Regions from separate parts of the Homo sapiens genome. Here region 2 is reported to be linked to region 1. Evidence: microRNA targets listed by miRTarBase, many of them from high-throughput screens and not tested one by one. Region 1 holds a microRNA gene; the other region holds the end of a gene's coding sequence.
What was found. Region 1 holds the annotated microRNA hsa-miR-190a-5p (UGAUAUGUUUGAUAUAUUAGGU, at 2,874-2,895, shown strand). A microRNA usually pairs through its seed, bases 2 to 8, with sites in the 3' UTR of a target mRNA and lowers its output. Matches are read on the target gene's strand: a 7mer-m8 pairs with bases 2 to 8, a 7mer-A1 pairs with bases 2 to 7 and ends in A, and an 8mer does both.

Region 2: miRTarBase lists PHLPP1 as a target of hsa-miR-190a-5p. Seed matches in the 3' UTR shown: 8mer at 593-600.

What each region holds. Positions count from the first base shown.
Region 1 is chr15:62,821,098-62,825,161 of GRCh38, forward strand. MIR190A (microRNA 190a) reads left to right here and starts at 2,860; the gene lies at 2,860-2,944. All of the region lies in intron 54 of TLN2 (talin 2), which reads left to right.
Region 2 is chr18:62,979,076-62,983,139 of GRCh38, forward strand. PHLPP1 (PH domain and leucine rich repeat protein phosphatase 1) reads left to right here. Exons shown (of 17, transcript NM_194449.4): 17 at 1-1,358. The coding sequence ends at 356. Among named protein-coding and RNA genes, the nearest start is that of PHLPP1, 270 kb to the left of the region's middle.

The sequences.
Region 1 (4,064 bases):
TCATGTAGATAAATGTTTAAAACTTAAGATTATAGGTATATGTGAAGAGAAATAGCCATTTAAAGGAAAGAGATACTTTTAGATTAGGCAGGAGGAAGGACACTTTCTAAATAAAAGGATGACAAGCTAGTGCTGTCTCCAGGGGCAAAGCCCCAATCCTGTTAAGCTAATACCTCCTACCCCACCTTCCATAGCTGTCTTCAGCAGGAAAATGGTAGAACCAGAGGCGGCCTGTTTTTCTTCCTATTCAAGTAAGTCCCTGGTGGTGCATGTAACTCATCTATTTCCAAGGACCCAGATATACTAGGAAATAATATTTGGCTTTTCCCCTCAAAAAAGGGCTGGATTCCACCAATTTAGGTATACCTAAAAATTTACCTATTTTTGTAAGACCAAGGGATGGAGTCTGGGCCCTGAAACAGAGCAGACCACTCAAAAGCAGTGCCTGGGCCAGTGTAGTGTATGAAATAAACACAGACTGAGTCTGTTCAGCTTGGGAACATTATTAAAACCTTCGAGTGCTTAGAACCAACCTCCTAATAGTCGCTCTGGACTTGGTAAAGGCACTTAAACGTTTTCTCATCAAGATGTAACTTAAGGATTTGGGCTTCTGATTGTGGGGTTTACCAGGGCTCTCTCTGCTGGACTCTACCTGGGAGTCTTGGGTTGCCTGATATTGTCAGAGTAAGAGCCAAGTGTGGGTGTTGGGACAACTCCATTTTCTGGTTACGCCTTTGTTTCTGCTTTGTCAGTCAAGTTAATCGTGAATGAAAAGTGTACTTTAAACTTAAGAGTCAACCATTAACTAAGATTTAGAGGTTTGGTGCATGATGTTTTTCCATTTCCTTGTCTGATTTATCACGATGGCCTTTCTTGGGGAGGGCTCTGTCCGCTAATGCCGAAGCCATGTCAGTTGACACATTCGTTCTCCTGGAGAATTAGCCTGGTGCTAATTTAACATTAACACTTCACCATATTCTAAGAGCTCCTGTTTCAATGTCTTTCCCTTTGTCCTTCCGCAGGGTCCTTCTGAGCTCTTGTCTGAGTCCTGGTTTCCCCGTGTCTGGTCGTTCACTTCACGACTCCAGATGGGAAAACAAAATTATTAAAGTTCCTACCCCATAGGATTATTGTTATAATAATTAAATAAGATAGTATAAGAACACTGCCTGACATACAGTGAGACTTGGTAGATAGTAACTATATCACCATTATTATCACCATCATCACTGAAAATGTGTGTCTGGGACTTACTCCCTAGGAAATGCCTGAAATAAAAATTATTCCACTGGCCCCTGAAGAAAGAAAACCAGGAAGCTCGCGTTGTTCAGCTGCCAAGCCTGTGCCAGGCAGTCTTCTGGGTACTTTATGGGAGTCACTCATCTGATCCTTGGAAAAAGTCCATTAGAATCAGAAGCACCAAGAGGCGAATTACCTTGCCAGGGTCCGACCACTGTCACTCAGCTGGGAGGGCTATGTATGGCCCTGGGTGGCAGTTTCAGTCCATACCAGCCCCTGTTTCCCACCCCATTGTCAGAGAAGGCTTGTCTAGTCCCACAAAGGCCATTTGTAGTTTATGTGTGCCCTTAGAGCTACTCCTCGAAGGAATATTATGCAGCTATAATATTATGCAGCTATGAAAAATAATGGTTGCTAGGACTGTGTAGCACGAAGAAAATGCTCATGGTATAACAGAAAGGATGCAGAATTATGTACTTATTATGATTACAACTCTAAAAACTCACAGATGAAGAAAATAAGTAGGGAATGTACAAGAATGATGATGGAATTGGGATGATGGAAGGGTCTGTGTTTTAACATTTTATAAAACAAAGGTTTAAAAAATAACAGCACCTTAAAAATTAATGACTGCTGAAGTAGGCCTGTGAGGACTCCCTACAGTACTCTAGGATCATATAGCCTTTGTGTTTACATTGAGGGTTTTTACAGGAAAGCCAAGGAGTCCTTCGGCCAAGGTCAAGGTTAACATAACTGATGATGTGAATCCTTTGTTTGAGGGTTCCTACCTTAGCTCACTCCCATCGTATTAGGAAGGGTGATGGGTACTTCTAGAATGCTTCACAATGGTCTGAAGTCTTTCTCTGCCTGATGGCCAGAGGTGGATATTATCTATGAAACTGTTTTGGAAAACCTGCAACCCAAACCATAGTTTTTGTGCCTAATAGGGCACATTGCAATAACTTTTGCATGAAATATCTTCCTTGCCTTTATAAAGGAATTTATTTCCCCAATTAAAAAACAATAACAACAATCTGCACCAAAATCAGCCAGTCTTTTGAGTTGAATCACTTCTCTCCATTCTCTCCCAAAACCTTAAAAAAATCCTCAGGGTACTGTCAGTAAACAATTGCTTATTACATCCCTATAACCCTACCCTGGTACACACACATGCCTTCAGTATAAAATGGATGTGTGTTCCTTCTGGGGAGTATTCACACTGCTTTCAGGAAGAGTTTGGGGAGAGACAGTAATTTTGTCTAAAATGCTCTGCTCACCACCGTCTCAGGTTGCCTGTTTTTAAAGGAGAATGGCTCATGGTCTTTGATGATGATTCTGGTACATTTCCACCTCAGGCTCTTAAAACTTAAGCATCACTTTTTGCCTGGGATCTCCCAGACATGCACCGTTGAATCTGCTGTTCACCTGGGGAGATGAGAATGTCAGTGAGCGCTGGTGCATGTGCTGACAGTATTGTTAATGGCGCCGTTTCCACATCTGCAGGCAGACTTGTGCTCCAAAGACAGTTATCGGAGTTGCTGCAAAAGTGACCACCCCCTGCAGCCGTAACCTTCAATACTGTGCCTAGTCTCGAGCTCAGTCAAACCTGGATGCCTTTTCTGCAGGCCTCTGTGTGATATGTTTGATATATTAGGTTGTTATTTAATCCAACTATATATCAAACATATTCCTACAGTGTCTTGCCCTGTCTCCGGGGGTTCCTAATAAAGTTTATAAGGCAACAGGAAAGAACACGTTAAAATCACAAGTAGATTTAGAAGATGGAGCACTCATTACAATTCATGTTATCTTCCATTTCTTCTTATAGCATTTGAGACCTGTATCAGTATTACTGGATTACTTGCTTATTATAGAAACAATAAGTGTTGATGTTTCATAAGAGCCTGGGGTATTCTGTGTGGCTTAGTTTTGTGCAGTGATGAATCCTTAAGGAATTCAATATGCTTGGTGGAAAAAACGGTTCCAACCCATGTCTGTGACACAGAATAAAGGTCAGGATTATAGCCTCAAACACATCTAGATTCATGTTTCATTTTGGTTCATTTTTATCCTGATCTTCAATTTAGAAGTTCATGTCAGGGTTTCAGCAAAAATTCAAGGAGCACAGATCAGTTTTCTATGACTTCCCTTTCCACTCACAGTAACAGAATGTATAAAGCAAATCCTCCATACCAGCTGCATGGATACTGAGTCAGTGAGCTTTGTACAAACCTTGGATATAGGACTAAATATATCTCATGAAGGTAATATAATGTTGACTGAACTCTTGAATTTCCTGTTATAGGTTAACTTGTCAGTGGAGGTTGGTAATATTTAGAATAAGCCAACAATCGGAAAGTAATATCATAGCCTAATTGACTGTGGCAGGAAGTTTGGGATTATGATATAGAAAACATTTTTTCTGGTACATAACAGCCTTCTTTGGTTGGTTTTGACCTCTTCCTTATAGAAAAGCCTGTGAAGTATGTGTGAGTTCATTCTGAGTTCTCTCAACAAACAAAATACTTTGTGAGCACTGCTTTCTGGAAAGAGAACTACTGTTCTCAATGTTTTGGAGGAGAAAAGGTGTAAGCAAATGGTTTAAACAGGTAGTCATGAAAGCTTCCCCTTACTGTGTCTAGAAGTCATTGCCACATTGCTTACAGGTGAATGCATAGTGACAGGGTCACCAACAGCAACATCAGAGAGGTGATGACACAGGAGAGGGTCCTGTAATGTTGGAGTCCTGGCTTCTGGAGTTACATAATGGATCCTGTCTCTGGAATCCTTCTCCATTGAGAAGCGATCTGTGTGTGTTGGCAGGT
Region 2 (4,064 bases), not on the chromosome of region 1:
ACGAGGATGAGCCAGGTCTGCCCAGGAAGGCAGACTTCTCTGCCGTTGGGACCATTGGGCGCCGGAGGGCCAATGGCTCTGTTGCGCCCCAGGAAAGGAGCCACAATGTGATAGAGGTGGCTACAGACGCACCTCTTCGAAAGCCTGGAGGCTATTTTGCTGCCCCGGCTCAGCCGGATCCTGATGATCAGTTTATCATACCCCCGGAGCTGGAAGAGGAGGTCAAAGAAATCATGAAGCATCACCAGGAGCAACAGCAGCAGCAGCAGCCGCCACCACCCCCTCAGCTCCAGCCGCAGCTGCCGCGGCACTACCAGCTGGACCAGCTGCCAGATTATTACGACACGCCACTATGACCCAGCCGAGCTGTTTAACAAATAAACTAACCACAAAAGACTGAGTTGCAAGAGTCTCCCAGGCTCACATTAAACCAGGGGTTTTACTCCACATCCTTCCCCCAGACACTGTTCCCAACCTGTCATCGCAGCTAATCTGTAGGTTCTCTTTCTTTGGGTTATTTTTTTAAGTAATCACCACTTTCTTCTAGTGATGCTTTACCAATATGATTTACATTTGTTAACTTCTCCCCCTAACATATCAGATATGTAAAGACAAAGAACAAAAGGTTTAATATATTACAGAGAAACAGTTAATGATAATGTAATATTTTTTAAAATGGCTTTTTGTTGTTTGTTTGGAAGGCAGGGCAGGCTGCCGTTGCTAAATGATTTAATAATATTGTAATTCTGTATTTCTTTGGGGGGAAAAGGCTTTTGTTTTGTTTTGTTTTGTTTTGTTTTGTTTTTGTCTTGAAAATAATAGACATTTGTAGAATATGGAGACTAACTCCTAGGAGTTGCTTTACTCTGTCAGGTGACTTAAGTCACTGGGATTCACTAATTTTCTCTGAGAGAACAGCTGATTGAGAATTTCCATTGTAAATAGCTCAGTGTTGTATAGTGAGGCTTACGATGTTTTGTAGTCTTGGCGTAAGGACACAGCCCAAGTAACTGACGTTTCCCCTCCCCCTCCCCTCTGAGGAGCCTGCCTGCCTCACAACTCACCCTCACTTCACTGAATGAGGAGGCTGAGCAGCTGCAGTGTTTCTGTCCGGAGGAAATGGATCTTAGGCCACTGGACAAGAACCTGCACCCAAGGGCCCTGAACCCATTTTCCTCCCCTGTCCCAGCCTTCCCACTTTGACAGACACTTTTAACTGTGTTCCTTACTGCTGCCACAATCAGCATGGTTGTATAGTGCCCCATTAGGCCATTTACATACCCAGAGTTATACTCAAGCAGAATGCACAAATGGACATGTCATAATTTTTGTTACAATAAATATGAAATTTACAAGTATTTACAAGTATCTGCTTTTGTCTCAGCAGCCAGATGTTTCTTGGAGACAGTCACACTAGCTTGCGTTTAGAAAGAATGGATGGAATATTGGGGTTATCAGATATTTCTGATTTTTTTTTTAAGAGAAAAACATCCAGTAAGTTAACCTACATTGAATGAAATGTGAAATTAACCAAATGGTAAGCAGTATAATTAGCTGATCTTACAGCTTTTCTTTTCTTTTCTTTTCTTTTTTTTTTTTTTTTGAAATGGAGTCTCGCTCTGTCTCCCAGGCTGGAGTGCAGTGGTGTGTTCTCTGCCCACTGCAACCTCCGCCTCCCGGGTTCAAGTGATTCTCCTGCCTCAGCCTCTGAATAGCTGGCATTACAGGCACCCGCCACCATGCCCAGCCAATTTTTGTATTTTTAGTAAAGATGGGGTTTCACCATGTTGGCCAGGCTGGTCTCATACTCCTAACCTCAAGTGATCTGCCCACCTCAGCCTCCCAAAGTGCTAGGATTACAGGTGTGAGCCACTGTGCCAGGCCTGATCTTACAGCTTTTCTATTTCTTCTTATGACTTAGGGTAAGATGTTTGGGTACTTCTTAGGGAAGATGTGAGAAGGGGGATAGACAGAGGTTGCATAGATAGGGGAGATCCCTGGACAACTTTACTCTCACGAAGCGAAGTTTTCAGTTTTCCTGGGGGGCCTGTAGCTCACATAAGCAGGTTAACCTGCCTCTTACTTGGACAGGGTCAATCAAGCTGGTTGGCTTGCCTTCCACCACCAGCAGGAATCGTGTAGGTGCAGCGGTGTGTACTTAAGAAAGCCAGTATTCCCAGCTACTAGTCAACTGCATTTACAGACAGGGACCTCCGCCTTCACCTCGCCCCCACCCTACACGTGTGAACCTTGTGTGGAAGATACTGTTGGTCTTCATCTCACATGGACCACCTTCCTATGTAGACCTGGCTTCCTTCTTTAGGTCTGCCCTTGGGTGGGACCTGGCTAATTCAGTGACAGGGCAGTTCTTATTTCTTAACTAGTAGACTTGGTGGTGGGCTCTGTGTCCCCCTCTAGGAGGCCGCTGGGTGGACTTTGTTTTCGTAATGGCCGTACTTCATTTCCACATCAGGCTACTTGCACACAGTGCTCTTTGGAAACCACTAAAGCCATGGAAGAGAATTGCCTCATCTCGGCCCAGTGAGAGACCCAGGGACCAAGGAAGCTGACTCCCCAGTACAGGCGGAGCGCTCTGGCTGAGACTGGAAGCTAAACCACCTTGGGACCCCTGCCCCGGTTCCACTTCCCAGCCCCTTACCTTGTCCCTCGGGCTGCCCCACTGGGTTGAAGCAGATGTGGACAACTCCAAGCTCTCACACCGACGCCTTAGTTCCTGCAGGTCTGGGCTGCTTCTCTGACTTCCTCAGTTCTTAAACCCCCTCTGGGCAGGGTTCACCTGTCCCCGGGGGTGGAGCACACCCCGGCCTTGTATGTGGATCTCTTCCACCGCAGCTCACTTCCAGAGTGGTCAGAACTGGCTGAGCGTGGTCCACGGAGGCAGCAATCGCTTCCAGATTCTAAAATGGGCCCCACAGCAACTCTGTGCCAGGGGCAGCCACTGGGCCCCACAAGCTCTGATGCAGGGACACCTCATTTCCTAACTTCTGTGTCTGCTGCAGGAGAAAGGGGTATGAGACTTGGAATTGCTTTTTTCCTGAGTCCTCCAGTTTATTTGTGCTTGCTGCTGGGTTTATTGTCTCTTTTCGGTCCCATTGTGCACATACTACATGTAAGGCACCTTGGAGTGAGACTGCCCTTTGGAGGCTTGGGGTAAGTAGGGCATTTAGATGAAAAGGTAATTCAGTCAAGCACATGTTGAGTGACCAAAGTGGCATAGACTTAGCTGATAGGTCTCCATGCGGTTGCATAGGAGCTGCCTCAGTTATTTCTGAGGAGTTTCTTTGCATTTCTGTTTATCCAGATAGCATCTAATAGTATATGTAGAGCTGCTTATACAACTGAAAGTGCTTTCTGAATATTAAAGTGCTTAATATTTGAAGATCCCTGAAGCCACAGTGTCTGCAGGGTAAGTATTAGGGAGAAGGGCATTCCCGCCTGCTCTATTCCCTGCTTCCTGCTGGAAATCCAGATAATTGGGAAAGGGCTTTGAGGGGAGAGAAAGGAAGAAATGAAACGGGAAGCGGAGAGCTGTGGTGAGCCTTGCTAGGAGAAGAACCCCTGATCGAGGACCCTAGAAACTGTTTGGTGTTGGATCCAGCGCATGCTGCCCGCCCTGTGCTGCCCTCAAGCTTCCTGCCCTTCGCTCCTGCTCCCGAGCACTGGCTTTGATGAGAGGTAGCAGAGCCGATCTCTGGGACCCAGAAACCCCACCTGCCTGCCTTGGTTTCTCTTGATTGCTTTTGTCACAGCACCACCTGCTGGTAAGCTTAGACTTTGGGTGGAAATGGGCTTCACTCTTTATCCTTCCTTCACTTTCCCAGAAGAAACAAAGTGTTTAAGTTTCTTATCACTGTATTTTCGTAAACACATGATAGCAAACTCCTATACCACTGTCAAGTATAGCCGAGAAGCTGTGTTTCCGCTTTGTAAGACAGTAGAAGTGATGACAGCTGGTTCCTGTGATGAGCCTGATTTTCCATGGGAAATTGACATGCAGAAATATTAAGATGGATAACCAGAATCATATAGTTTTGCTGGGAGAG